3 separate regions of the Homo sapiens genome follow, and regions 1 and 3 are each linked to region 2. Evidence: fine-mapped expression QTL. A gene starts in region 2. Each other region holds a variant in brackets. All regions are shown on one strand. Distances are between the middles of the regions.

What was found. PIP is the estimated chance that this variant, and not a neighbour inherited with it, causes the effect. A credible set is the group of variants that fine-mapping cannot tell apart.
Region 1: its variant is the best candidate, but not a certain one, in a credible set for the expression of CASKIN2 in tibial artery (GTEx, PIP 0.54).
Region 3: its variant is the best candidate, but not a certain one, in a credible set for the expression of CASKIN2 in thyroid (GTEx, PIP 0.58).

What each region holds. Positions count from the first base shown.
Region 1 is chr17:75,444,224-75,452,399 of GRCh38, forward strand. No RefSeq gene overlaps it. Among named protein-coding and RNA genes, the nearest start is that of TMEM94, 8.3 kb to the right of the region's middle. The variant A/T (reference allele first, on the strand shown) is at 3,559.
Region 2 is chr17:75,512,025-75,520,200 of GRCh38, forward strand. CASKIN2 (CASK interacting protein 2) reads right to left here and starts at 3,513. Exons shown (of 20, transcript NM_020753.5): 1 at 3,377-3,513; 2 at 1,687-2,184. The coding sequence starts at 1,780. It overlaps TSEN54 (tRNA splicing endonuclease subunit 54), which reads left to right and starts at 4,504. Exons shown (of 11, transcript NM_207346.3): 1 at 4,504-4,592; 2 at 4,722-4,886; 3 at 4,985-5,048; 4 at 5,137-5,220; 5 at 5,533-5,631; 6 at 6,971-7,023. The coding sequence starts at 4,537. RefSeq lists enhancers at 2,623-3,189, 4,284-4,578 and silencers at 3,363-3,972, 4,363-4,742.
Region 3 is chr17:74,637,728-74,645,903 of GRCh38, forward strand. No RefSeq gene overlaps it. Among named protein-coding and RNA genes, the nearest start is that of CD300E, 18 kb to the left of the region's middle. The variant T/C (reference allele first, on the strand shown) is at 4,782.

The DNA of each region.
Region 1 (8,176 bases), 68 kb before region 2:
TTTTAAAGACAGTGTCTTACTCTGTTGTCTTGGCTAGAGTGTATTGAAGCTGTCATAGCTCACTGAGGCCTCCAACTCCTGCCCTCGAGCAATCTTCCTGCCTCAGCCTCTCAGAAAAAAGTATTTCTAAGATGGAGAAGGGTGGGCCAAAAATAGCTCTAACTGTTTCAGGAAGCATGTCTTGTTACCCTACAAGGCCCTGACCATTCACTGACAAAGAGTGCTTCTCTGCGCGATGTTTGACTGCCTCTCCAATACTCTCCATCCTGTTTCAAACAATGTGTCTCCCTCTGTAGATGAGCCAGTGTTCTACTGGACTGGGAGGAACCCAGCTACCTCCTCCCATTAGCGTACCTCCCATATTGAAGCAACTCAGTTTTTTATTATTTTTTGAGACGGAGTCTTGCTCTGTAGCCCAGGCTGGAGTGCAGTGGTGTGATCTTGGCTCACTGCAAGCTCCGCCTCCCGGGTTCATGCCATTCTCCTGCCTCAGCTTCCCAAGTAGCTGGGACTGCAGGCACCCGCCACAACACCCGGCCAATTTTTTTTGTATTTTTAGTAGAGACGGGGTTTCACTGTGTTAGCCAGGATGGTCTCAATCTCCTGACCTCGTGATCCTCCGGCCTCGGCCTCCCAAAGTGCTGGGATTACAGGCGTGAGCCACCTCGCCTGGCCCCAACTCAGTTTTAGAGAACCCCAGAGGCAGCTATATAAATATTGTTTAGGTACAGCAGGGGGCTTCTTTGGCCCTTATAGATCTAGACACTGTTACTTAAACCCTGTTCGAAAGACTTCTTTGAGGCCGGACGCAGTGGCTCACGCCTGTAATTCCAGAACTTTTGTAGGACAAGGTGGGTGGATCACTGAGGTCAGGAATTCGAGATCAGCCTGACCAACGTGGTGAAACCCCATCTTTACTAAAAATACAAAAATTAGCCAGGTGTGGTGGCAGGCGCCTGTAATGCCCCCTATTCAGGAAACTGAGGCAGGAGAATTGCTTGAACCTGGGAGGCGGAGGTTGCAGTGAGCCGAGATCACACCATTGCACTCCAACCTGGGCAACAGAGCGAGACTCTGTCTCAGAAAAAAAAAAAAAAAAAAAAGAAGACTTCTTTGCAGGATCATAGGATCATATGTTCTCATGGTTGCTTCTGGTTCCCATGAACTGGTTTACTTGAGGGACTCTCCCCCCATCCCATGGGTGTAGTTCCTTATCCAAGAGCACAGACTGAGATGTGAAACATACCCTTGCCACTTGTCACTAAACCAACTGCTCACACAAGGTTTCTATACATGTAGAGATCTCTGTAGGACAGTTGGGAAGATGCAGGGATTTACATCGTAGAAACGTGAGCAGCTTTCAATTCAGTGTCAGTGTTTTTTCTCCAAAAGTCCTCTGCCATTTCCACCGTTCAGGCTCCAGCTTCCTTACACATGGCTCAGCCTTCCTCTCTGCTCTCTCCTCTCTTTCTCTTCCAATTCTAAATTTTTGGTTCATTTTTAAAATGCATGCTGGGTGTGGTGGCTCACGCCTGTAATCCCAGCACTTTGGGAGGTCGAGGCGGGAGGATCTCTCGAGGTCAGGAGTTTTAGACCAGCCTGGCCAACACAGCAAATTGGAGTTAGAACCCACAGAACTTGCTCTACTAAAAATACAAAATTAGCCAGGTGTGGTGGCGCACGCCTGTGATCCCAGCTACTTGGGAGACTGAGGTGGGAGGATTTCTTGAACCAGGAAGGCAGAGGTTGCAGTGAGCCTAGATCACACCACTGCACTCCAGCCTGAGCAACAGAGCAAGACTCCATTTAAAAAAAAAAAAAAAAAAAAGCAGCTGGGCATGGTGACTCACGCCCTGTAATCCCAGCACTTTGGGAGGCTGAGGTGGGTGGATCACCTGAGGTCAGGAGTTCGAGACCAGCCTGGGCAACATAGTGAAACCCTGTCTCTCCTAAAAATACAAAAAATTAGCTGGGAGTGCTGGTGGGCACCTGTAATCCCAGCTACTAGGGAGGCTGAGGCAGGAGAATCGCTTGAACCCAGGAGGCAAAGGTTGCAGTGAGCCGAGATTGTGCCATTGCACTCCAGTCTGGGCAACAAGAGCGAAACTCCATCTCAAAAAAAAAAAAAAGCAGTCACTCCTCATTCTTCTCCCCACACCCCAGCCCCTGGCAACCATTTATGGCTGGGCATGGTGGCTGTCACCTGTAATGCCAGCACTTTGGGAGGCCGAGATGGGCAGATCACCTGAGGTCAGGAGTTCGAGACCAGCCTATCCAACATGGTGAAACCCCGTCTCTACTAAAAATACAAAAATTAGCCACGTGTGGTAGCGCGTGCCTGAATCCCAGATACCCGGGAGGCCGAGGCAGGAGAATCGCTGGAACCTGGGACATGGAGGCTGCAGCGAGCCAAGATCATGCCACTGTACTCTAGCCTGGGCAACAGAGTGAGACTCCGTCTCAAAAAATAAACAAATAAAAATAGGCCAGGCGCGGTGGCTCACGCCTGTAATCCCAACACTTTGGGAGGGTGAGGCGGGCGGATCACGAGGTCAGAAATCGAGACCATCGTGGCTAACATGGTGAAACCCTGTCTCTACTAAAAATACAAAAAATCAGCCGGGCGTGGTGGCGGGTGCCTGTAGTCCCAGCTACTTGGGAGGCTGAGAATGGCGTGAACCCGGGAGGCAGAGCTTGCAGTGAGCCGAGATTGCGCCACTGCACTCCAGCCTGGAAAACAGAGTGAGACTCCATCCCAAAATAAATAAATAAATAGATAAATGAATAATAAATAATAAAATAAAATAAAATAAAAACAGGCCAGGCATGGTAGCTCATGCCTGTAATCCCAGCACTTTGGGAGGCAAAGGGGGGTGGATCATTTGAGGTCAGGAGTTTGAGACCAGCCTGGCCAATATAATGAAACCCTGTCTCTACTAAAAATACAAAAATTAGCTGGGCATGGTGGCAGGTACCTGTAGTTCCAGCTACTCGGGAGGCTGAGGCAGGAGAATCACTCGAACCTTGGAGGCGGAGGTTGCAGTGAGCCGAGATCGCGCCACTGCACTCCAACCTAGATGACAAAGCGAGACTCCACCTCAATAAAATAAAATAAAATAAAATAAAAAATAAATAAATAAAATGCAGAGCATTTGGGCTCATTCTCTTACTGCTTTGATGCAGGCTGACCTGGGCTCTGGGTCTCATCTTTTCTTAAAACATTTACCAGTGATTTTCCTATGCAAAGACAGTTTCCTCCCCAGGAGGAATTTTGGTGTCACTGTTAGGACACAAATGTACATGTCAACAATCCCTCTGATAATCTGAGAGAAATTAAAAAGTAGTAAGGCACTATCCCTGCTCTCAAAGAGCTTAAAATTTAGTGAATGAAGTGATATTTACACCTCAAATGCTAAGAAGCCGTTCAAAAATAGTCAAGAATGCTAGGCAGAGATGACTGGGATTGGTATTTGGGAAATAAAGTGCCAGATAAGGTTTCTGGGATGGGAGTAGGGCTGGGTATCTCGTCAGCTAGTGCCTGGACCACCACGGCTGGCT[A/T]CCTGTCCCCACTGGCTCCTGTCTCTCTCTCTCTCTTCTTTTTTTTTTTTTTTTTTCTGAGACAGAGTCTTGCTCTCTTGACCAGGCTGGAGTGCAGTGGTGTGATCTCGCCTCACTGCAACGTCTGCCTGCCAGGTAAAAGCGATTCTCCTGCTTCAGCCTCCCGAGTAGCTGGTCTTACAGATGTGCACCACCACTCCTGGCTAATTTGTATGTTTAGTAGAGACGTGGTTTCACCATGTTGGCCAGGCTGGTCTTGAACTCCTGACCTCAGGTGATCTGCCCGCCTCGGCCTCCCAAAATGCTAGGATTACAGGCATCAGCCACCGTGCCCGGCCCTTATTTTTCTTTTCTTTTCTTTCTTTTGAGACAATCTTCCTGTGTCACCCAGGCTGGAGTACAGTGGCATGAACACAGCTGACCCTAGCCTTGACCTCCTGGGCTCAACGGATCCTCCCATGTACTATAGCTGGGACCACAGGCATGCATCGCCACGCCTGGCCAATTTTTTAAAATCTTTAAAAAAATTTTTGTAAATACAAGGTCTCACTTTGTGGCCCAGTCTGGTCTCCAACTCCTGGCCTCACGCAAGCCTCCTGCCTTGGCCTCCCAAAGTGCTGGGATTAAACAGACATGAGCTAATACACCTGACCCAAGACTGCTATTTCTAGCTTATCTTCTACAAACTCATCTTCCTCTTAAGCTTGACTGTCTCATTTCTCTACTTAAAAATGTTGGAGGAGGAAATGTTCACCTCCAGCATTTATCTTCTGGTGATTCATAACGTCCCTGGCTCCTTAGAAAATAGTCGCAATCTCGTCTAGCTTTATCTTCTGTTGCACTCCCTCTGACCAAACGCCAAACTATCCAAGCACAACAGGCAACGAAGATTAGTCTCAGTTTCTACGAATGTGCAGTGAAATACAGCTTCTGCTCTGGAAGTTAAGATGGCTGCTTTGCAGCACACGGAAGACCTTGGTGTCTGTGAGCATAGACTAAGGCTACTGATTTCATTATTCCTGGAAATCAAACAAAAAGAGGCTTCCAGTACAGGGAATATCAAAGATCGGTAAGATGATACACGCATGATGCTAAACTTATGGCTAGGCAACCTCTGCTCCATTGCTTTTTTTTTTTTTTTTTGAGACAGTCTCACTTACTCTGTCACCCAGGCTGGAGTGCAATGGCATGATCTCGGCTCACTGCAACCTCCACCTCCGGGTTCAAGTGATTCTCTTGCCTCAGCCTCCCAAGTAGCTAGGATTTCAGGTGCACACCACCATGCCTGGCTAATTTTTGTATTTTTTGTAGAGAGGAGGTTTCACCATGCTGGCCAGGCTGGTCTTGAACTCCTGACCTCAAGTGAACTGCCCACCTCGGCCTCCCAAAGTGTTGGGATTACAGGCATGAGCCACTGCTCCATTGACATTTTGAACCAGATGATTCTTTGTTGTGGGTTGTACTGTAAGTTGTAGGATATTTAGCAACATTCCTGGCCTCTACACATTAGATGCCAGTAGCAGCCCTCTCCCAACCCCTGTAGTGACAACCAAAAATGTCTCCAGACATTGCCAAATGTCCCTAGGAGGCAAAATCATCCCCCAACTGAAAGTGTACATAGGCTCACACCCAGAATCCTAGCACTTTTTTTTTTTTTTTTTGAGACAGAGTCTTGCTCTGTCGCCAGGCTGGAGTGCAGTGGCGCGATCTCGGCTTGCTGCAATCTCTGCCTCCCGGGTTCAAGCGATTCCCCTGCCTCAGCCTCCCGAGTAGCTGGGAGTACAGGCGCCCAACACCATGCCCGGCTAGTTTTTTGTATTTTAGTAGAGATGGGGTTTCACCATGTTGGCCAGGCTGGTCTCGATCTCCTGACCTCGTGATCCACCCGCCTCGGCCTCCCAAAGTGCTGGGATTACAAGCGTAAGCCACCACAACTGGCTGAATCCTAGCACTTTGGGAGGCCAAGGCAAGAGGGCTGCTTGAGAACAGGAGTTTGAGACCATCCTGGGCAACATAGTGAGACCCTATCTCTACAAAAAAAAAATTAAAAAGAGAGTCTGTGTGTGTGTGTGTGTGTGTGTGTGTGTGTACTTTTTTTTTTTTGAGATGGCGTCTCGCTCTATTGCCCAGGCTGAAGTGCAGTGGTGCAATCCAGGCTCACTGAAACCTCTGCCTCCTGGGTTCAAGCGATTCTCCTCCCTCAACCTCCCAAGTAGCTGGGATTACAGGCACCCACCTGCATGCCTGGCTAATTTGGTATTTTAGTAGAGATGAGGTTTTGCCAGGCTGGTCTTGACCTCCTGACCTCAGGTGATCCGCCTGCCTTGGCCTCCCAAAGTGCTGGGATTATAGGCATGGGCCACCTCACCCGGCCACATACATTTAAAAAATTGAGATATAGTTTAAATACACTAAAACCTACAGATTTTAAGTACATAGTTGAACGAGTTTTGATAAATGTATAAACCTACATAACTCTCACCCTAATCAAGATATGGGGCATTTCCTTCACCTCTCAAAAGTTCCCTTCTGCCCTTCTGCAGTCCATCCTTGCCTGTCCTCCAGATTCCCATCTTAGGAGTTGATATGAATGGAATTGCAGGGTACATAACCTGTTATGTCTGGCTTCTTCCCTTCCTCATGCCATTTGTGTGATTCTTTCAGATTGGGATGTGTATCAGTGGCCTCATTCACTTACTTACTTACGTATTTATTTATTTATTTGAGAGACAGATTCTTGCTCTGTCACCCAGGCTGGAGTGCAGTGGTACGATCTTGGCTCTCTGCCTCCCGGTTTCAAGCAATTCTCCTGCCTGAGCCTCCTGGGTAGCTGGGATTACAGGCACACGCCACCATGCCCAGCTAGCTTTGTATTTTTTGTAGAGACAGAGTTTCACCATGTTGACCAGGCTGGTCTTGAACTCCTGACCTCAGGTGATCTGCCCGCCTCAGCCTCCCAAAGTGCTGGGATTACAGGAGTGAGCCACCACGTCCAGCCTCATTCACTTATGTGTATGGCTGAGTAGTAATCCCTTGTTCAGATCCACCACCATTTGGGTACCTGTTCCCCAGCTGGTGGATATTCAGTTTGTTTCCCATTTGGGGTGCTTATGAACAATGTCTTTGGGTGGCCATTTATTGTTACCTAGGGATCTAACTTTTGCAGACTGTGAATGCAGTATGGGAATGGGGACCGTAGTGTGGCCAGTGCTCATGTTGTGTTGTAAAGTTGTGCCATCTATTTCTGGACCACACTTTTTTTGTTGTTTTGTTTTGTTTTGTTTTTTTGAGACTGAGTCTCGCTCTGTCACCCAGGCTGGAGTGCAGCGGCACGATCTCGGCTCACTGCAAACTCCACCTCCCAGGTTCAAGCCATTCTCCTGACTCAGCCTCCCGAGTAGCTGGGACCACAGGTGCCCGCCACCATGCCGGGCTAATTTTTTGTATTTTTAGTAGAGATGGGGTTTCACCGTATTAGCCAGGATGGTCTCGATCTCCTGACCTCATGATCCGCCTGTCTTGGCCTCCCAAAGTGCTGGGATTACAGGCGTGAACCACCACGCCCAGCCCTTTTTTGTTTTTCTGAGGCAGGTCTCACTCTGTCGCCCAGGCTGGAGTGCAGTGTCACAGTCACAGCTCACTGCAGGCTCAACATCCTGGGCTCAAATGATCCTTGCACGTCAGTCTCCTGAGTAGCTGGCACCACAGTTGTGCACCATGCCTGGCTAATTATTTTTATTTTTAAATTTTTTGTAGAAATGGAGGCTCCCTGTGTTTCCCTGGCTGGTCTCAAACTCCTGGGCTCAAGTGACTCTCCCACCTTGGCCTCCTAAAGTGTTGGGATTACAGGCTTGGCCCAGACCACTCTTTAGGGGTACAAAGACGTGTCAGAATTGTCTCGCTGGCAGTATTTACAACAATGTTCTTCAGTGGGACCTCTTGGTTGAATCAAAGGGCCCAAGAGGAGCCTATTGTCAGTGAGATATCACTACTACACGATGCAGGGATTAAAGGAGCAGCTTCTCCTAAAAATATCACTCACAACTTAGAGGCAAAAGGCTCTTTTTTTTTTTTTTTTCTGAGACGGAGTCTTGCTCTGTCACCCAGGCTGGAGTGCAGTGGCGTGACCTCAGCTCACTGCAAGCTCCGCCTCCTGGGTTGACACCATTCTCCTGTCTCAGCCTCCCAAGTAGCTGGGACTACAGGCACTCGCCACCACGCCCGGCTAATTTTTTTTTTGTATTTTTAGTAGAGACGAGGTTTCACCGTGTTAGCCAGGATGGTCTCGATCTCCTGACCTCGTGATCCGCTCGCCTCGGCCTCCCAAAGTGCTGGGATTATAGGCGGGAGCCACCGCGCCCGGCCTAGGCAGAAGGCTCTTGCCGATGGAGCAAGCTGAACATGGGAACTACCTGTTCAAGAATCAACGGCTCAGATAATTTCACCAGGCCTCACATTGCAAGTATCCTCAGTCCCGACCCCGAATGCCAGCCTCTGTCTTCATCCATTGCTATCTCCCTCCAAACCTTTCCCCTGTGTGATTCGAAGCCCATTATTTCTTTTTTATTATATACTTTTTTCTCTTTTGAAAAATTTTTTAATAGAGAAGGCATCTCGC
Region 2 (8,176 bases):
ACCCACCCTGTGTCCACTTCCCTAGGCACAGAGACCACCCCACAGCTCCACCTCTCCAGGCCCTGCGTCTCCTGCCCCAGTGTGCTAGTGGATGCATGAGGTTAAGGCCCTTCCTCTGGCACCCATACCCCAGGTGTTCAGGTAGCCTGGGGGACTCCTTCCTGTGCACAGGACCGAGGTGTATCTTGGGGCTAGAGCCCCTGAACTCCAGAGGAGACCTTCCCATCCAGGGAACTCCTCCTGCCTCAGTCTGGTGGCAGGAACCACCTCCTGCCTATGCTGATCTGGGATCTCAAGGTGACAAGTCCAGCGGCCTCCTGGGACAGCCCAGAGAGCCCTCCCTGAAGCCCAGAGGTCTATTCTCCCTGTGGGGGGTCGCACCACAGAGGTACCCAAGACATGGGGCTCAGGTGTGGCCGCTTGTGCATGGATCCCCCACAGCCCGGTCAGGTCTCGAGGCTAGGTGAAAATCTCCAGTAAATGAGCTCTGGCCACACCCCACCAGGACACACATGTCAGGGGAAGAGAAACTTTAGCAACTTGTTAGAGAGTGTTGAACTTTTTTTAAGCAGTAGAATTCCCTTTTTAAAAGCTATCTCGTGGCCTGGTGCGGTGGCTCATGCCTGCAATCCTAGCACTTTGGGAGGCTGAAGCGGGTGGATCACCTGAGGTCAGGAGTTCGAGACCAGCCTGACCTAGATGGTGAAACCCCGTCTCTAGTAAAAATTAGCCAGGCGTTGTGTCAGGCACCTGTAATCCCAGCTACTCGGGAGGCTGAGGCAGAAGAATAGCTTGAACCCGGGAGGCAGAGGCTGCAGTGCGCTGAGATCATGCCACTGCACTCCAGGCCGGGTGAGAAAGCAAGACTCCGTCTCAAAAAAAAAAAACAGCTATCTTATAGATATCCTCTTAAGACACGAACATAGAGGTGCTCTGGTTGAAATGTGTGCGTTTGAGGTTGGGGGTAGGGATGAAGTTCTATCTATTCAGTCTTCTCTAACCCACTGTCAGAAATCTCATGGCTCCAAAGAACACATCAGAAAGACCATCTGCTAGAAGGCAACTCCACGAAGACAGGAATTTGGGTCTGTTTTGTTCACTACTATGATCCAGTGCTTAGAACAGAGCCTGAGCCAGGCACAGTGACTCACGCCTGTAATCCTAGTACTAGGAGGCCTACCTAGGTGGGTGGATCACTTGAGGTCTGGAGTTCGAGACCAGTCTGGTCAACATGGTGAAACCCCCATCTCTACCAAAAATATAAAAAAAAATTAGCCGGGCATGGTGGCACACACCTGTAATCCCAGCTACTAGGGAGGCTGAGGCAGGAGAATGGCTTGAACCCAGAAGGCGGAGGTTCCCGTGAGCCGAGATCCTGCCACTGTACTCCAGCCTGGGTGACAAGCTATAGGCACTCAATAACAATGTGAATGAACGTACTTCAACCCTCTAATTTTGCAGGCCAGGAAACTGCAGCCCAGAGAGGTTAAGTGACTTGCCTAAGGACACACAGCAAGGGGGACCCAACTTTCTCTCTGGCTCTCTCACACAGAGGCACTTCTTACTGAGAACAAGACAGTCCACCCTCCTCAAATATGCAGATCACAGTGACCCACCCCCACCCACCAAGCCTCTGTGAACTGAGCGCTCGGCCTCAGCGGGATGCTCGTCCCACCCGGTACTCACTTGTCTTTGTGGCCTTGACCTTCGCCACCAGTTTCTGCACACCGGTCACATCTCCATTCTTGACGGCGAGGATCAGGTCCTGTTCACGACCCATACTGGCTCCTGGGCTGAGCTCTACACTCAGGAGTCCAGGGCAAAGGCAGGCAACGGGTCCAAGCTGGGGCGTCAGGGCGCCATGCCACAGCCCCTTGGAGGGCTCCCGGTTCCGGGGGAGCAAGTCAGGTGTCCCAGGCAGTGGGCTCCTCGTCAGGTACTGAGGGATACTCCCAAAGGTGCTCCGTGAACTGCCACCACACGAAGGAAAGCTAATCTTTGAGGGGGTGAAGGCTACATGGAAATCTGGATGGATATCAGCTTGTGGCTTCCGACAGCTCCAGGATGGGCTGGGACTGGGCACACCAATCTTCCCGGCTTGGCTGTGGAACACCAGTGCCCACCCAGAGAGCAGCCAGCATTCCCTTGGGCCTCAGGCAGCAGCGGTGCACTGGTCTCAGGGCTCTGGAAAAAGCACGGGGCCTCTGTCGAATGCTGGGCCACAGCCTGCAAGGGTCCCAGAAGTGGAGTGCAGAGGATGAGCAGGACAAGACCTCCAGGGAGCCCCCAAGCCACCCTGGCTCCCCTCGGAGTCGATGGTGATGCTGAGCCACTGAAAGTGGGGAGGAAGCTGCTATGCATGAGAGGAGTATTGGTGGGGGGGAGGTGGCATTCTGGGAGGGGGAGGCTGAGTCACTGGGGCCCCAGGGCACCTGGCAGTACCTCAACCTTGGGCAGGAGGGGCCCTGGCAGCATGACATACTGGGGCAGGCCGGGCCAGCAGCCTGTTCTCCACAGCCCGAGGCTCCGACACCCACAGACAACTGGCGGGCCAGGAGGTGGGGCCGGGAGGGTCAGGCACAGGCAGGCGGGCAGGGGTCACTCCCTGTCAAAGGCACCAGCCCCCAGATTCCTCCCTACGGAGGCTTCAAGGCTTCGCTTTAATGGCTGGATGCCCTAGTCCTAGGACTCTTTGTGAACGGAGAGCATGAAGTGCTTCTGGCCCCCCATTTCTGGGGGCTCTGCCTGCTAGAGAGGGAAGCTGCACAGCACCTGTTGCTGACCCGCCCTCGCCCCTTGTGTCGGGTGGAGGAGCAGCTGGGCAGAGAACAGAGAGAGCTGGGGCACTGCTGACAAACGGGGCTCCCAAGCCCCCCAAGCCTGAACCTGAAGCCCAGACCCTGGACTCCACCGCAGAGAAGCTTACGTCAGTTTCTCGGTGGCAGCGAATTTACTGCCAGAGTCTTGTGGCATGAGATCCGCGCAGGCCTGGGGCCCTGGCCGGGAACCCCTCACTCCCCAAACGTCCCAAGCCCAACCCAGGGGCACTCCCACGCGGAGCCCGCGGCCGACACGGGCGGAGGGCGCCCTTGGCAGTGCCTGGGGTCGGGCTGGCTCCCCCGCCCCCCGGAATGTCCCTCCAGCGCCTCGCAACCCCCCAGCCCAGCCCAGCCCAGCCCAGGCCCACCGGGGAACAAAGCGGCGGGAGAAGCCGGGCGGGCCAAGCGCCCGAGGTATAAACGCGGAGGATGGAAAAAGGGGCGCGAGGAGGACGGAAGGAGCGGGGAGATGGAGGTGCCCGCCGACCCCGCAAGAAAAGTTAGTTTGCGCCCGCCCCCAGGGGCGCTGACCCCCAGCGCGGGCCCCGCAGCCTCACCTCTCCCGGCCGCCCGCCGGGGTCCGGCTGGCCCTGCTCGGTCCCTGGCACTCAGGACGGTGGCTCCCACTCCCCCCTGCCCCCCTTTCTCCTTCTCCTTTTCCAAGGCCGGCTCGGCGCCTCCCGCAGGAAATCCCGCCCCTCCCCCCTCCCTCCCGCCGGATCGGGAACGGAGGGACCGTCCCGGCCGCGCAGTCAGGCTGTCAGTCAGCACCGGCGGCTCCGCCCCCATCCGCGCCAGATCCCGCCCCAACTCGTGCCCGCCCGGACCGGGGGCGCTGACCGGATCAGCGCATGCGCCCAGGTGAAACGGAGGGGCGGGGGGCGCGGGGGCAGAGGTGACCTGGGGCTCTGGACTTAGACCCAAGGGCTAGACACCCCGGGTCTGACTGGTGGGAGAGAAGACGTAATGTGAAGGGGGTTGGCAACCAAGACGCGGGACCCCACTTGCAGTACCCCCCGTCTGCGGCCGGCGTCGCCCACCCGCAGCCGCCGGCCGGGCAATGGCACCACCTAGCGGACGGCACCAGTGCGGGGACCCCAGCCTCGAGGAGGCGCTCGTGCCGGGCGGAGGTGGCGCTTCAGCACCGTCGTGGGCCGGACAGCGCCTCCCGCCCCCGGCCCTCGAAACCTGGCTTCGGAGCCCAGCCGTAGGGACCGGACGGAAGACACCGAAGGAATGGCGAACCTCCCCGGACCGCTCCTGACAGTTCCCGGGTGGCCTTCGGCCTGCAAAGTCGGAATTTGCACACCCTCCGCTCGTCCTTCCCTGAGCCCTTCTGCCCTCCTTGCCCAGCCCGGGCGGTGGGGACTAAGCAGCGCGAGGCTGCAGAGGGGCGGTCACAAGTGTGACCATTCGCACTGCACTCCAGACGCCGGCTCCTCAGGCTTTACTGGAGAGAAGCCCCGAGGAGGGCTAGGGGCAAAAGAGGGGCCTTCTGCATCTCCAGCAACCTGCGGGCTGAGCTCCCAGACCCGGCGTCGGGGTGCGCTTCCGGGCGGGCGCTAGGACCGGGGACAATCAGGAGGGCGCAGAGCGGGCTGGGGCGGTGCAGGGGGCGGGGCTGCCGCGGCATTGCGGATCGGCGGGCACTAGGGCAGCGCGGAGCTCCGGCGGTGGGCGGGGCGTGGCGGCGCGCGCAGCGGCAGGCGGCGGCGGGATGGAGCCCGAGCCCGAGCCCGCGGCCGTGGAGGTTCCCGCGGGGCGCGTGCTCAGGTGCGGCGCGGCCCGGCCGGAGTGGGTGTCGGGGGCGCGGGGCCAGCGCGGGTAGGGAAACCGGCGCCCGGGACCCGGCCAGGCGGCCCCCGATGCGCGGCGCTGACCCCGCGTCCCCTTCTCCCCCAGCGCCCGGGAGCTCTTCGCCGCCCGCTCGCGGTCGCAGAAGCTGCCCCAGCGCTCGCATGGCCCCAAGGACTTTCTGCCCGACGGCTCGGCAGCTCAGGCCGAGCGGCTGCGCCGGTGCCGGGAAGAGCTCTGGCAGCTGCTGGCAGAGCAGCGCGTGGAGCGCCTGTGAGAGGGGCGGGCCCAGGGGTAAGGGAAGCGGGGGCGAGGCGGGCCGCGGGGTCTCCGGAATGGACTGACGCAGACCCCTCCCCACTCCTCGCCAGGGGCAGCTTGGTGGCTGCCGAGTGGAGGCCAGAAGAGGGCTTCGTGGAGTTGAAGTCTCCCGCGGTGAGCGGCGGGCTCGGGGACCGGGGACCGCCCTCCCTGCCCTCCCTGCCCTCCCTCCCTTGTGACACTTGCTCTGGGCCCCACACAGGGCAAATTCTGGCAGACCATGGGCTTCTCAGAGCAGGGCCGGCAGCGCCTTCACCCGGAAGAGGCCTTGTATCTTCTGGAGTGTGTAAGTGGGGCCCGGGAGGTGGGGAAGGAGTTGGGACCAAAGAACGGGAAGGACACGTTTTATCGGAGAAAAAGCACACACAACCCGGTCTTTAGAGAACTGATAACCAAACTTCTAAAGCAGGAGGTGGTACGTTGCAGGGAGCAGGGATTCCAGTCCACATTAGTGATGCTGCCCCACTTTCCTGGTTGGCCACATTCTTGATGCGCTGCTGAGAGGGGGAGGGGGAGGTATCAGAGCTGGGAAGTTGCCCCATTCCTCTGTGGCACTGTAGTGAGGGCTCATAAGCTGAGCTGTTGGCCCCACTTCCAGGGCTCCATCCACCTCTTCCACCAAGACCTGCCACTGTCTATCCAGGAAGCTTACCAGCTGCTGCTGACCGACCACACTGTGACCTTCCTGCAGTACCAGGTATCTGCCACCACCCCGCCTCCGGGAGCCACCCATCCACTGAATCAATGAGTATTGACAAGTACCCATAAGGTGCCAGGCACAGTGTCACATGCTGGGGCTGCAGGGCAGACGAGGGCTATGCTGTCACGAGGCTTACATTGTGGTGGTGGCCTGTTGGCTTCACATAGACCCCAGTGCTGTCAGAAGATAAGGTGGGGGAAGAGAATCCAAAGAGACTGGGCTGTTCATTCAGGTGAGAGAAGCTAGGGGCTTGTCGCAGGTTGGGGGTGGGTAGAGTTGCAGTGAGTGAAAAATAGATGAATCTCAGAAATATTTTGGAGAAAGAATGGATAGGACTGCCAATGGATTGGATGTCAGGATTAAGGAGAGAGAAGAACCCAGGATTACCGCCCATGATTTGGGCATGCACCAGTGGATGAAGGTGCTGTCATTTTCTGAGTGGGAAGAATGAAGAGGAGCAGATTTGGGAGGACAAGACCAGTCGAAAGAACTGTGTCAGATAAGTTAATTTTGAGGAGCTTCTTGGACATCCAAGTGAGTGTAAAGCAGACAGACAATTGGAATCCAAGTCTGGAGTGTGAGGAGAGGTCAAGGCTAGATGTAAATATGGGTGCCATGAGCACATGGATGGTATTTAAACTACTGGGCTGTATGGGAGTGCCATCAGAGTAGAGGGCTGGGTCTGAGCCCTGGGGCTCTCTGTGTAGGTTAGGGGGCAGATAAGAAGCAGAAACAGACCGAGGAGTGTCTGGTGATGCAGGAGAAAAACCAAAGTCGCATCACAGAAGCCAAAAGAAGGTCTTTCAAGGAGGAAGTGGTTAGCTGTGCTAAAGCCTGCTGAGATCAAGCAGGATGGGGGACATTCTTATCTATGTTCCTCTGATATGAATGCAGGGACACAAGGTTGAATATGTGGCTCCCTACCAGAAACTTCCCACCGGCATCTGTGGAGGTGTGGGGCTGGAGAGATGCCCACCACCTGCCATCATTTTGTTCACATGGTGATCGGCAGCTTCACTCCTATGAGCTTTGTATCAAAATACTCAAGTATTTCAGGGCGTGGTGGTTTTCTGGTTTCATGGCTATCAGTTTTTTTGGATTTGGCTAAATGTCATTTGTGCCGAGTAAGGTAAGTGGGAGGACAGGAATTCAGAGCCTGAGATCTTTAGGGATGGTGTTCGTAATGAAGCATGGTCCAACCTTAATCACAGGGTTTAGAATCTGGGGGTGTACAGGAGGGGCAGAGAGGGCTGTGGGGATGGCCTGTGTCTGGAGAAACCATTTGGTGTTTTCCAGAGTGGCCATCTGAGCTTTCATTTTTTTTTTTTCTTTTGAGGTCTTCAGCCACCTGAAGAGGTTGGGTTATGTGGTTCGACGATTCCAACCAAGGTAAATCCCCTTCCTGTTCCCCTTCCATATATTCTAGTCCTGGGACCTGGCTGACTAGTCTAAGGTAGAAAATGGCCTCTCCTTACCTGGAACCCTTGGCTGGAGTGCAGTTCCTTGGGCACAGACTGGGGGCGCCTGCTGGAAGCGTTCTGAGAGAGGCAGGTTGGGAGGAATCCAGGTCATTTTGTTTTATTCTGGTTTATGAACTCGAGCCGCATCTTCAGATGACCTGCGCCTGCAGCTGAGTGTGTGTGAGCACTGAGAGGCAGGATTGGAACAGTGCCTGGCACTTAGTAGGTGCGCAGGCAGGTATGTAGAGTGTATGCTTAAATGAAGGACTGGGTGAAGAATTTACCATTAGTAGGGTTTCACATTTTTCATGCCAGGTTAAATGTTTTTTCCTTCATCACCTTAGTAATCCAGCATTGGTAAAAGGCAGAGACCTTCAGACTTGGAGTGGAAACGGGTACAGCTTTTGCAGTTACAGTATGTCACAAAAGCTCTAAAGCAGGCACATCTTTTCTTTTCTTTTTGAGACGGAGTCTCACTCTGTCGCCCAGGCTGTAGTGCAGTGGCATGATCTCAGCTTACTGTAGCCTCTGCCTCCTGGGTTCAAGCAGTTCTCCTGCCTCAGCCTCCCAAGTAGCTGGGATTACAGGCGTGTGCCACCATGCCTGGCTAATTTTTTTATTTTATTTTATTTTTAGTACAGATGGGGTTTCACTGTGTTGCCCAGGCTGGTCTCGAACTCCTGACCTCAAATGATCCTCCCGCCTCAGCCTCCCAAAGTGCTGGGATTACAGGCATGAGTCACCACGCCCAGCTCTACATCTTTTCTTTTCTGAAAGTGGAACCTATCCTAAGGAAATAATCGTGGACGTGTACAGTGGTTCACCTGTGAGAATGATCAACGATATTTATTATTTGCTGGGGGTCAGGCCCTGTACACATCGCTGAGAACAGAAGAGCAAAATCACTGCCCTCACAGAGCTTGCATTTAGTGAGGAGTCACACAGAACACACTCACTGTGCAAAATCAGTGTACTTGCAAACAAGAGTTGAACAAGAGGCAGGCTCACACAAATGAGAGGTTATCCCTTAGAGCAGCTCTGTCCAATAGAACTTTCTGTAATGATGAAAATGTTCTGTGTCT
Region 3 (8,176 bases), 870 kb before region 2:
GTCAGAATGCTCCTTTCCCCTGCTGGATCAAGGCTCTGAGACAGGCTGAAGGCAGAAATCCTCTGTCATTCCTGTCCCCTTCTCAGCTACCAGGGGAGCGTGACCCGTTCTGGGGCTCCAGACACTGTTATCACAGAAGATTTGCTCTTTCTGGCAGGAAGCAAAAACGATGAGACTAGTGTTGTCCAAACTGAGGGTTGCAACCTGGTTGTGGGTCTTAAGCAGATTTTTTTCTTACAAGTAGTGTGAGAGACCAATGGAATCTCAGATTCCCAAACTCACTATGCCAAAGGGGAAGAGAAGCTTAGGAACTGGGTCACCAATGCTGTCTTCCTCTTGTTCCCAAACAGATGGCTGCAATGGCACAACCCTGTACTCCCGCTCTTCACATGTTTACTTTATCTTAAGTCAAATGCAGATTAACTGAGCTGCACACAAGACATCATTGACTTTTCCCTCCACTTCCTCTTTCCAGGTGTAAAATGTAGTTTTACCAAAGCTAATCAGAGCCTCACGGGAATGTAACCATTTGCTTCCCTGCCTCCCCTCCCTCCCTTTTTTCCCTCCTGCTTTCTCTTCCTCCTTCAAAGACTGAAGTTCCCGGTCGGGCACAGTGGCTCACACTTGTAATCCCAGCACCTTGGGAGGCTGAGGCGGGCAGATCACCTGAGGTCAGGAGTTTCAGACCAGCCTGGCCAACATGGTGAAACCCCATCTCAACTGAAAATACAAAAACATTAGCCGGGCATGGTGGTATGTGCCTGTAATCCCAGCTACTCGGGAAACTGAGGCAAGAGAATGGCTTGAACCCGGGAGGCGGAGGTTGCAGTGAGCCGAGATCATGCCATTGCATTCCAGCCTGGGTGACAGAGCAGGACTCCGTCTCAAAAAACAAAAAAAAAGTTCCTAAAACCTCCTTTGGAAAATGCATCTGTGATCTGTTTTGTTTTGTTTTTTTTTTCCTGGACAACCTTGGCTAAACAAACCTCTAATGCACTGAGACCTGCCTCAGTCATGTTTTGGTCTGTAACAGGGTATGTCAGGATCAATCAGAGCACATCTCAGGTTATAATGATAAACACTGAGATTTTATTTTTTTTTTCTGTATGCGTATACAAGTATTGCCAAGTAACTAACTTTCTCACTGTGAGTCATGGTCAAAAAATACTAAAAGTCACGACATGGGCCGAGTGAGGTGGCTCACGCCTGTAATCCCAGCACTTTGGGAGGCCAAGGCAGTTGGATCACCTGAAGTCAGGAGTTTGAGACCAGCCTGGCCAACATGGTGAAACCCCATCTCTACTAAAAATACAAAATTAGTAGGGCGTGGTAGCACGTGCCTGTAATCCCAGCTACTCGGAAGGCTGAGGCATAAGAGTCCTTAAACCCGGGAGGTGGAGGTTGCAGTGAGCCGAGAACACGCTACCATACTCCAGTCTGGGTGACAGACTGAGACGCCGACTTAAAAAAAAAATTCATGACATCAATTATGTGTGAGCATTTTACTTCAATCCAGAATAAAGAACAAGGGAACTCTCCCACCACCCTCTGTCTCTTGGTGCCCAGAAACTCCATCGAGCACGTTCTGGTCCAGAAAAAAAGAGGGGGCCCTGCAGTGGCCAACCCTATGTCTTGCTCCATTCAGCCTGCTGTAACTGAAATACTACAAAGTGGGCAGCTTAAGCAGTCATTTATTTCTTACAGTTATAGATGCTGGACATCCAAGATCAGGGTGTCAGCCTGGTCAGGCTCTGGCGAAGGCCTCTTCTGGGTTGCAGATGACTGCCTTCTCTTTCCATCTTCACATGGCAGAGAGGGAGGTCTACAAAGCTCTCTGGAGTCTCTTTTATGAGGGCACTCATCCCATTTATGAGGGCTCCAGTTTCAAGACCTAATCGCTTCCCAAACCCCCAATACCATCAGCTTCATGGTCAGGATTTCAACATATGAATCTTTGGTGGGGGAAGAAGGGGGACACAAACTTTCAGTCCATCATCCCTGGAACAGGCAGATAATGCCAGCATTTTCTTCATCAGTGTCATGGACTTGGCGTTATGCAAGAGCAGTGTCGATCAGGAACGGGAAACAAGAAGGTTTTTGTGGTTATGACCGAAACCATCTGCTCACATCAGCCCATTTGTGGCTTTTATTTCTTTTTTTAATACTCAATTTGAGCAGAGAGCAGGCTGAGAAAGGAGTGCTGGCATCAGGAGCTGGCAGCGTTAGAAGCACCTATGCAGAGGGACAAAAGCCCCAAAGTGAGCGACTGCTGGGCTTCGAGCCCCAGTGCCCCCCACCTCACCACGCCCATGACTCCTGCATCTTCCTCCGAGACCCACCCTGCACAGCTGACTCACTTGCCTTCGTCTGTGCAAATAACTTCCCCATGGGTCTCCTTTTTCATTTGCTTCTCTCCCCTTTATTTCAGGCTACTAAGGGATGCAACGTTGACGGTGCTAAGCAGAGCCTAGAATAGGAGAGAGGGCTCTCCAGAAAAGACCTGGAACATTAGAGATGAGCAATGCCACTGTTAGGAGCCCATGGGTCCCGCCCTAAGCCTCCGAGGCCTCTCCTTCACCTTCATATCCACACCAGACAGGGCTGGTGAGCGAATTCTGGAGGATTCAAGGCGAGAGAGAGTCCCCTGTGTTCTTAACTTCGGGGAGCTGAGGTCACAGATACACTTGAGATTGTAACAAAAGCTATACACCCATGCCCTAGGAAAACACACACATACACTGAGTTTCGCATATCCTATTAAAAGAATCTCCAGAGTCTTTCTATGTATTCCTAGCTAGGACCCCCCACCCTGGCAGGGCGCGGTGGCTCACACCTGTAATCCCAGCACTTTGGGAGGCCAAGGCGGGTGGATCACATGAGGCCAAGAGTTGGAGACCAGCCTGGTCAACATGGTGAAACCCTGTCTCTACTAAAAATACAAAAGTTAGCTGGGCATTGGTGGTGGGTACCTGTAATCCCAGCTACTTGGGAGGCTGAGGCAGGAGAATCCCTTGAACCCGAGAGGAGGAAGTTGCAGTGAGCCAAGATCGTGCCATTGCACTCCAGCCTGGGTGACAAGAGCAAAACTCCAACTCAAAAAAAAGAAAAAGAAAAAAGAAACAGATGAGAGAGATATGACTCTGATGCTAGAACAGAGGAGGAGCCTGCAGAAGGTGTGCAAGCACACATGTGCGCACGTGCACACACATACCAGCTGTCAGACACAGTCTGTGCTCTTTGGGAAGGAGGGTGGGGGTTACAGGACACTCCCATGTGACAAAACAGCAATCATCCCATGTCCCCTGGGTGCATAAAAACATCTCTCTTTGCACACCAGCACACAGCCACATCTTCCTTGCTGGGGTTCTTTGTGACCACTGTGAAAAAGCATTTGCCAGGGCTGTCTTGATGGTACACGGCGCTCCTCTCCTGACCTCAGGTGGTCCACCCACCTCAGCCTCCCAAAGCTCTGGGATTACAGGCGTGAGCCACCGCACCTGACCCAGACCCTGCATTCCTTTCCCCACTGGGCTTCTCTAATGTTCAGAACAACTCAAATCCATTTGTGCATTCTGCTGCCGCATATGGAGGCCCTGCTAAGTGTGAGTCCTACTTTGTGTTTGCAGCTGCAGACCTCATGCTGAGCAAGACTTCGCCTGGCCCTGGAGGGGCTCCCCACTACACCCTGGGTTGCCTCTGTGCCCTCTGGACTACCAGGCCTGGCTTAGTCGCTTTCCTTGGGCCTCTGTTTGTTATCAGCAGAGCCCACCCATCTGAGGCTGGAGCCTGAAACTCTAGTCATCCCTCTGATTCCCTCATCCTCTCCCCAGTGCACCCCAGCCCCACCCACCTCCCCTTCCCCAGCCACTAGGCCTGCTGTTCCTCATGCTCCCACCAGCCTCCCCCACCCCACTCCCCGGACCCAGGATGTCCAGGAGGGGCAGATGTGTCACTGTGTCTCTTTGCTCTCTCTGCCTCATCTGCCAACATTTGGGGAGCTTCTGTCAGCTGGACTGAAACTGGCTTTCATGTTTCTTACTACTCCCTTGCGTCTCTCTTTTCTACACCTCAGTTTTGTTGTTTTCCCATTGCATCAATGTTTATACGTAGAGCTGTTCAGAAAAAGCAGAAGCTGGAGACAGGAAAACTACTAATCACAACAGAAACTTTGTGGCTTTAATTCTCATAATAATTAGCATCACAGGGCACCCACCCAGTTTCTCAAGAGCCTACAACTTCCAAAAACAGACAAGTTAAGTCACATTTTTATGTATCATTGTGTCTTCAAATATACTAATCCAGCAGATTTATCTGACATCAAAACAGGGAGTTGGATGTTCAGAGGGCAAATCTTACCCAAAAATTGCTGACACAGCCCCTAACATGTTACATTATTATTAATTGGACAGTCACTTAATGAGCGTCTACTAAGTAAAGGCGCTGTGTATACAAAGAAGAAGGAGAGATCATGATTCTGTCAGGATCCTGGGAGTGGGCCAATGGCAGGCTCAGTTGGTATAACAGAATAATCTAATGCAGGGGAAATTTACAAAGAGAAGGAAAGAGTTAAGTGAAATCAACAAGAGATGGAGAAAAAACAGGACTAGCAACAGCAGTAGGGCCACGACACCTCTAACACAGGGAGAGGTGTCAGAAATAACCAGAACCCACAGGAACTGTAGGACAGGACCATGCCACAGGGGCTGTGACCTCAAAGTAGGAAAACGGACACTCCAGCCCAGCAGGGTGGCACCTGGGCAGGAGAAACTCTCACCTTCCTT[T/C]CTCCTGCTGGCACCACCCATTGCCATTCCTTGGAAAGAAAATAAATCTTGGGACCCCAAACTCACTAAGCCAAAGGAAAAAGTCAAGCAGGGAACTGGGTCATGCAAACCTACCTCCCATGTTGGTTCCTAAATGAGATGGTGACAAGGATGACAGGCTACCAACCTCCCTCACATTGTGGTCTTTAAAGCGTTTCTGTTAAATTTCCCCATGCCAATGTAAACTGATAGCTTATCTTCACAGGTGCGAGACACAGGACAGAACTCAAAGTCATTCCTCTGCCCACCTGAGACAAACGCATATCTGACTGTTTCCTCTGCCCTGTTGTTTACGTTATCTTAGGTAAAAATGCAGATTCACTGAGCCAGACAAAGGCCTGAATGGCTATTTTCCCCACCTCCCCTCTCACAAGAAAATTGTGTATTTCTCAATATCCCACCCTTTCCCTTTTAAATATTGAAGCCCCCAAAATCATCTTCAGAGAAAGGTATAGACCTGTCTCCCAGGCGCGTTTCCTTAACTTTGGCAAATAAACTTCCTAAAATGATTGAGACTTGCCTCAGTCATTTTCCTCCATTGACAACCTGAGCCCAACCAGAAGCCAGAGTGAGGTTATCTATGTTCCCCTCTCCAATAAGAATAGAAACCCCCACTCCAGAGCAGGTGCGGTGTCTGACTCATCTTCATATCCCAGCAGTAAGTACAGTGACCAGCTCACCGCGGGTGCTCAGTAAATGCATGCTGTGTGAAGAGATGAATGAGTGAATGTCCGTCCACTCAGCAACCTTGCAGCCAGGTGTGGTTGCTCATGTCTGTAATCCTAACATTTTGGGAGGCCAAGGCGAGTGGATCACTTGAGACCAGGAGTTTGAGACCAACCTGGCCAATATGGTGAAACCCTGTCTCTACTAAAAACCCAAAAATTAGCCAGGTGTGGTGGTGCGTGCCTGTAATCCCAGCTACTCAGGAGGCTTGAACCCAGGAGATGGAGGTTGCAGTGAGCCAAGATTGCGCCACTCTACTCCAACCTGGGTGACAGAGCAAGACTCTGTCTCCAAAAAAAAAGAAAAAGAAAGAAGAAAGAAAGAAAGAAAGAAAGAAAGAAAGAAAGAAAGAAAGAAAGAAGAAAGAAAGAAAGAAAGAAGAAAGAAAGAAAGAAAGATTCTTACAAACTATAAGATACTAAATTATCTAAAATTATTTCAAAATAAAGAAGGAGGTTTTGATGCTATATGCAGGTAAGAAAGGTTGGAATTAATCTCTGGAATAACACACATGATTTTCTCAATTCCTGTACTAAGCACATATGCATGGCTCCAGAAATAAGCAGAAAGTCTTTGCCATTTCAACTGTCCCCCACATACTTACTATGTTAACCCACTTCTCCATCAACACTTCTGCCCCAGGCAACTAGAAGAGAGAGAAGGAAGGTGGTGAAAAGCAGCTTCATGGTTCTGCCTACTGAGCTCTGCTCTCCCCTCTATACAGCCCAGTCCTCCTAGACTCTGGGCTGACCATGCTACAGAGAGCAAGTGCTGCATGCTCTGCCTTCTGCTTTGGTGCCTCCCTATCTCTTCTTATGGTGGTCTCCATTCACACCTGCAATCATTGTTTATTCTACTGCTTTTTTTTTTCTTTTAAGAAAGAAACTGAGATGATAAGCAGCAACTACTTGACAAGCAAGTGTTCAAACACAATGCTATGGCAATCTCCTCAACATGCTTGAAATATATGAAAAGATAGAAAATCTCAGCAAGGAAATAGACACAAAGAAGTAGCAAGTGGACATTTTACAAATGAAAAATATGATAACTAAATTTTTTAAATTCAGCTAATGGGCTCAACATCAGGAGGGAGAGGACAGAGGAAAGAATCGGTGAACTTGAACACAGAACAATAGAAATTGTCTGATCTGAGCAAAAGAGAGAAAATAGACTTTAAAAGATGAACAGAGCCTTAGGTAGCTGTGGGACTGTAATAAAAGAGCAAACATTCATGTCATTGAAGTTCCAGAAGAAGAAAAGAAAGAAAGCAGAGTTGCAAAAAGGTATTTGAAAACATAACGGCTAAAATTTTCCCAGTTTCAGCAAGACATAAAGCTACAGATCCCAAGATAACTATCCTCAAAGTCAGTCAGAGCCTGGGTCTAAAAACCATTTTGAGCAGATTCCTGGAAAACTCAATCTCCAGTCCAAACATTCTTCTAACCTCAGACCTCCTTGCCATCCCTCTCCTTGATATCTGCACTTGAGCCGTCTCAAAGATGCATCCAACTCAACAAGTCCAAAGTAAACTCACAATTATGCCCTCCAGAAAGGAGTCCCATCACCTTACACTGTTTCCTAGTTTTCATCCCTGACCCCTCTGTGTCTTCATCCCCACACTCTGTCCTGCCTGGAGCCCATTCAATGTTGCCTCCTGTTAAAGCTCTCAGATTTGTCCATCTCTCTATCTCCTTCTCTGCCAACCTAGCCCAAGCTACCATCGTCTGTCAATAGCCTCCCAGGTGGTCTGCCCACGTTCACTCTTAGTTTTTCGCCACTGTGCAGCCAGAATGGTATTTTTGCAAACAAATCTGATCTTGCCACTCCCCCTGTAAGAAACATTAACAGCCTCCCAGGGCTCTTACAACTCCTCTACTGGACCTCAGTTTGGCCCCTGCTGACCTCCCAAGCCTCAAGCCATAATAACCTCCCACTTAATCCCCAAGGGGCAACCACAAAGATTTTGGTTCCTCAGACAGAACACATTCCCTTGATTACAGTGACTGTTCACACACTGTTTCCTGGGCCTAAAATGCTCCTTTCCTCTCTTTGCTTGGTTAACTCATACTCTTCCTCCAAATCTCAAATAAATTATCATTCATTCAACTCAACAAATATTTACTGGACACCTACTACATGCCAAATACCGTGCTAGGTGCTGGAATGCAGCAACAAACAAATCAAGCTTCTGTCCTCAGGAAGCTTACATTCTCCTAGGGGGAGGGGGAGAGGAGAAAATAAACACATATAAAATGTACCAGGTGGTCATAAGTGCCCCGAAGACAAAAAGGGTAGAGGGAGTGAGGGGAGGCAAATGCTATTGTATTAATATCTATAGAGAAGGTATCTATGATAAAGTGTTATCTTATTTTAACAGAGACCTGAAAGAAGGGTGGGAGCCACACTGACAGCTGCAGGTGAAGAGTGCAAGGTAGGCCGGGTGCGGTGGCTCACGCCTGTAATCCCAGCATTTTGGGAGGCCAAGGTGGGCGGATCACGAGGTCAGGAGATCGAGACCATCCTGGCTAACACGGTGAAACCCCGTCTCTACTAAAAATACAAAAAATTAGCTGGGCAAGGTGGCAGGCGTCTGTAGTCCCACCTACTCGGGAGGCTGAGGCAAGAGAATG